Regions from separate parts of the Homo sapiens genome. Here region 1 is linked to region 2. Evidence: fine-mapped expression QTL. Tissue or cell type: monocytes. Region 2 holds a variant in brackets; the other region holds the start of a gene. All regions are shown on one strand. Distances are from middle to middle.

Region 1 (2,500 bases), 27 kb before region 2:
GCCGAGCTGCCTGGGTCCTCCGGAAGAGAAGACACCGCGGAGGCGTGCCGGAGTTCAGGGCGCCGCCCGGCTAATTGGCTGCGTGCTCCTCCTGGACCTGCCTCTTCTCGACTTTAAGAAGCGATGAGAGAGGTGTGTGGGGGCGGGTGGGGCCGGCGGGGGCGCGCGAGCCCCGCAGCCTCCCGCAGGGGCTTGGTTTCTCCTAACTCTGGCCCTACCTGGGCAGGTCACCAATGGGCCTTGGCAACTTCTTCCTCCGTCTCCGCCGTAACCCCCCAGGGATCTAACTCGAGGTGCTCGCGGACACGTTCTGTGGCTTGCCGCGATAAGTGTATCACAAACACACTGACAAACGCGTCCCTACTGGCCTCCAAAGAAGTGACAACTTCTGAGCGCGTTTCCGGCGCCCCTTCTTCACGCTGAGCCAGAGGGGGCGGGGGGCACGTACCACATGCTTGGCTTTCCAATCCCGACGGGGGCCCCCAGGCCCATCTACACTGTCAAGCCTCCTCTCCGGCTCGGAGCCCCCGGCCTGTCGCCTGCTCTACCCGGGACAGCGCGCTAGGCGGCCTCAGGCTCGGTAGCCCAGCTGCAGCGTCGGGAAGTTAAAAATAACCTCCGTGGGAGCGCGGGGGAGGAAGAAAGAGGGAAGCTGGTGGGCGGCGGGCGAGACGCCCCGGCCTGGAGAGGCGCCCCGGGTGGCGTGCGGGCCTCGAATTTCGGGTGGGCTAGGGCAGAGCGCGCAAAAGGGGCGCTGCATCCCGGCGCCGACAGCACCCGCGGGGGCGAGGTCGTGGCGTCGAGGTGAAACCAAGGGTCCCCCGGGAGAGCGGAGCCGCGCGCGCCCGGCGCTCGCTCCGACACGAGTTCGCGCGGAGCCCGCGCCTCCGTCTGCGCTGCGCGGTCGCTTTCGCGCGCCCCAGACACTGCGCTCGCGGCCGGGCCCGGGACTCCGCGCCTCGCGGCCTGCCGCCTCAGCTCACCCGGCCAGGTCGCGGCGCCGCCTTCTAGCCAGACGCCTAGGACGAGCGGCGGGGGCGCGCTTGCCGCTTCCTAGGACCCGGGCGGGAACCAGCTCGTGGCCCGGCCGTGGGCGCGGGCCGTGCCGGAGGCGGCGCGCTGAGGCCGGAGGCGGGCAGAGGCCGAGGCCGCGCCGGGCTCAGGTTCCACCCCCGGGAGCGCGGGGCGGAGCCAGGCCGGCGCCGAGGCTCAGTGCCCTCCCCGCTCCGCGGCGCCGGCTGCGAAGTTGAGCGAAAAGTTTGAGGCCGGAGGGAGCGAGGCCGGGGAGTCCGCTCCAGCGGGGCGCTCCAGTCCCTCAGACGTGGGCTGAGCTTGGGACGAGCTGCGTTCCGCCCCAGGCCACTGTAGGGAACGGCGGTGGCGCCTCCCCAGCAAACCGGACCGACTGGGTAGGGCCGCCCACCCTGCCTTCGCGCCGCTCGTGGCTCCTGTGCGGCCCGCCCTCGCGGGGCCCCGGGAACTGGGCCACTTGTCGCTTGGGCGAGAGCAGGCGGCAGCTGGTGGCCCGGTTCGGGCTTGGCTTTGGCGCGACCCGGGAGCGGCTCCCACGAGCGCCGCGCGCGTCGCAACGGAGCGGGGCCCTGAGAAGCGCGCGCCGCGGCTCCCACCGCTCTGGAGCTCCGGGCAGGGGACACGGCAACCTGGATGGCTGGGGCAGGGATCCTCTCCCAGAACTTCGTGCCCAGCAATGTCCGCTCAAGTTCTGGGATTTTTACGCAGCTGGACTCCCCTCCCCCTGGCAGCCCCGAGGGGTGAGGAGCTAGTCCGTCGGAGGGAGCCACGGGGCTCTGACTCATCCGTCGGGCCGGAACCGAACCCCAAGCCCCAGGGAGAAAGCCCCGGAGCAGGCGCCCTTCTCAGGGATTGTAGGCTTAGTCACACGGCGGGGGCGCCCTCGGAGGCACCGGACCTCAGCTCTCTGGACTTCCCGGGAACCTGGCTCCCCGCGCGTGGTCCCGGGATTTAGTCGGGCGCTCCCCACCTCTGGCAGCTGCGGCCCCGGACTCCGCCAGCGCTGTCTTCTCTCCCTCAGGTCCAGCCGCCGCAGGGAATGACGCCGGTGCTCCTGCAGCCACGGCTCCGGGCGGGGAAGGCGAGCCCCACAGCCGGCCCTGCGACGCCCGCCTGGGCAGCACCGATAAGGAGCTGAAGGCAGGAGCCGCCGCCACGGGCAGCGCCCCCACAGCGCCAGGGACCCCCTGGCAGCGGGAGCCGCGGGTCGAGGTTATGGATCCAGGTTTGTGGGGTTCCTGCTGGGAAGGGCTGTAGGGGGATTCCTGTTCCTCGCCAGGAATGATGGAACGCCCAGCTGGACGAAAGGGGCTGTGGACGATCGGGAGAAACATTATCCCTCACGAGGCCAGAAGCCGGCCGAATCTGAGCCAAGGAAGGGGGTGGCAGGGGCGCCGCGTCCCCACCCCAGGTCTCCCAGCAAAGGCCGCTCCTCTGGCCAGGGTCAATTACCGGGGTGTTTCGGGCA
Region 2 (2,835 bases):
GAGCATCTAACAACGCACAGGACATCCCTCAACGAAGAATGGCGTGGCCAACGCACCCGCAGTGCCACAGCTGAGAAGCCCTGAAGGTGCTCTGGAGACGCAGGTGCTGAGACCCGAACAATGGCAGAGAAGGTGGGTCTGCGGACCAGCCTCTGGATACATCAAGTAGGAAAGCAATCAAATGGTAAGTGAGGGGTCAGGGACAATGCCAGGGCAGAGGGCAACGTGGCAGGAGGCTGGGCACTTCTGTTGTGCCCCATTTGAGCTCCCCGAAGCTATGCTGGGGGCCACTCAGAGCAGGCATTCAGGAGCCGGGGAAGCTCACCGGGGGCCTCTCCTGCCAGGAGCACTCTCCCTCCACGGCTGCCTGACTCCCAAGGCACATGCTGCTTCTCTGAGCTGCAGTCTTGAGGCTGACCCCCAATAACACAGCAAAAGCAACTAGCTCGTCCTGCAGCTCCTGGTCCAGACTCTCATTCATAACACTGACCTTGACTGACCAGGTGGAATCCAAATTCACTGTATAAAGTGATCCAGGAATAGAAAACACAAACTGAGGCTGATCAACATGTTGAAAATACAAAGACGCTAAATAAAGAAGCTACTTTTTTTTGGTGTGGTGGGGGAGGGGGTGGGTGGGAAGAACAGAGTTTCACTCTGTCGCCCAGGCTGGAGTGCAATCATGGCTCCATCTTCCAGGTAATACTCCCACCTGTCTCCTGAATAGCTGGGACTACAGGCGTACGCCACCATGCTTGGCTAATTTTTGTAATTTTTTGTAGAGAAAGGGTTTTGCCATGTTACCCAGGCTGGTCTCAAATTCCTGGGCTGAAGCAATCCTCCTGCCACCAAAGTGTTGGGATTACAGGTGTGAGCCGCTCCACCTGGCCAAGAAGCTACTTTCAAGTGATTTTGATTGTCATGTCCCTGTAGGAGCGGATGGCTCCTAAAGGCTGGGCTGCTCCTGGAGGCCATGCCCTTGCCCCAAGGGAAAAGGCGGCTTTGTGCCTGGCCACTAGCACCAGCATTTGAACACTAAATGGGCTCCCAGTTCAAAAAGGGGAGCTGGAAGAAGTCCAAAAGCAGGGGCCTGCATGGAGCCTAAGCACTTACAGCTCAAGGCTGGAAGCCACCAGCCATGCCACAGTCATCTCCAGGTGTCAGACACCAGGGAAGGCCAAACAGGACGAGACATGGGTGCTCTCTTTTAATCCCGGGGTAAAAGGCAACCCCACCGCTTCTGGAGGTTAGTGATGTAATCAATACCAGATTTTTTCTTTTTTTTCTTGAGACAGGGTCTCACTCTGCCACCCAGGTTGGAGGGCAGTGGCGCAAGCAGGGTTCACTGCAGCCTCAACCACCTGGGCTCAAGTAATCCTTCTGCCTCAGCCTCCTGAGTAGCTGGGACTACAGGCACATGCCACCACCCGGCTAATTTTATTTTTTTTGTAGAGACTGGGTTTTACCATGTTGCCCAGGCTGTTCTTGAACTCCTGAGCTCAAGTGATCCTCTTGCCTCAGCCTCCCAAAGTGCTGGGATTACAGGCG[T/C]GAGCCACTGTGCCTGGCCCCAATACTAGGTTTTCAGCTCACAGCTTGCAGTAGTCTCAAACAGAAAAGGTCCAGCATCATGCCAAGTGCCCGCTGAGGCTTCACAGACAGCCTGGGACCTCAAGGACAAGCGGACGACCAGCCCCACACTAGGTCCCTGGTGAGTGTGTAGACAACAGGTCAGCTTGCAATGGCTCCTGGATTTGTGTTCAAAGAGTGAGGCTTTCCCTTTGTAGGACTAAGCCAGACCCTAGACCTCTGAAGGTCCAGCAGCCACACACAGGACTGAAGCTGTTGACCTAGGCCAGGACTCAAAGACCAGATTCCTAAAAGGAAGATGAGGTTAGACCAGCACTGGAAACTTCTAAATTCCAACTTGATACTTCCCAAAGAGTAAAAACAATCTGAGAAACGCCACTCCTCCACCCCCTCCCTGACCCCCCATCTCTTATTGTCTGAGCTGGGTCTGAGTCCTAGGTGTATAGAAAAAGAGTGAACTTGACAGTGGCCAACTGGGGGTGTGGGAGAGACAGAGCTTCCAATTGTGCTGGGGACCTCAGGGGCTCCTAACCAGCCTCTCTCCCTCCCCTCCTGTCTCAGCTGAGGCCTCTCTGGCTCTTTGGTTGTCCCTGAGCTTGAAGGGTCTAGCTCCACGCTGCCATGTGCCCACTCCACTGCCAGCACAGGTGTGGCGCCACTATAGTTCAAGACAGGGGTCACGTGTGTTAGTGCATATATATTTTTCAAACTAAGAAAACCAACTCGGCCGGGCGCAGTGGCTCAAGCCTGTAATCCCAGTGCTTTGGAAGGCTGAGGCAGACAGATCACAAGGTCAGGAGTTCGAGACCAGCCTGGCCAACACGGTGAAACCCCGTCTCTATTAAAAATACAAAAATTACCTGGGCGTGGTGGTGGGCACCTGTAATCCCAGCTACTTGGGAGGCTGAGGCAGGAGAATCGTTTGAACCCGGGAGGCGGAGGTTGCAGTGAGCCGAGATTGCGCCATTGCACTCCAGCCTAGGTGACTGGAAGACAGGGCAAGACTCTGTCTCAAAAACAAAACAAAACAAAATGAAACAAAAAAACCCAACTCAGTTTTGCGGGGGTGGAAGCAGGAAACCTTGCTGAGGCCTAGGATCCCACTTTTTTAGTGATTCCTATATATTCAAGGCTAGACAAGAATACAAACATAAAATAAGGTACACATATGGTCTTTAAAGATTTTGCAAGAATCTGACGTAGGGATGGGGTGGAGGAAGTAAGGACCAGTGACATTCACCCCCATCC

The links. PIP is the estimated chance that this variant, and not a neighbour inherited with it, causes the effect.
Region 1: SPHK1 starts here. The variant in region 2 is fine-mapped to the expression of SPHK1 in monocytes (TOPMed, PIP 0.91).

Annotation. Positions count from the first base shown.
Region 1 is chr17:76,383,398-76,385,897 of GRCh38, forward strand. It overlaps SPHK1 (sphingosine kinase 1), which reads left to right and starts at 1,212. Exons shown (of 6, transcript NM_001142601.2): 1 at 1,212-1,409; 2 at 2,054-2,257. The coding sequence starts at 2,248. RefSeq lists silencers at 1-139, 160-299, 880-1,579.
Region 2 is chr17:76,410,416-76,413,250 of GRCh38, forward strand. All of the region lies in intron 1 of UBE2O (ubiquitin conjugating enzyme E2 O), which reads right to left. Among named protein-coding and RNA genes, the nearest start is that of SPHK1, 27 kb to the left of the region's middle. The variant T/C (reference allele first, on the strand shown) is at 1,549.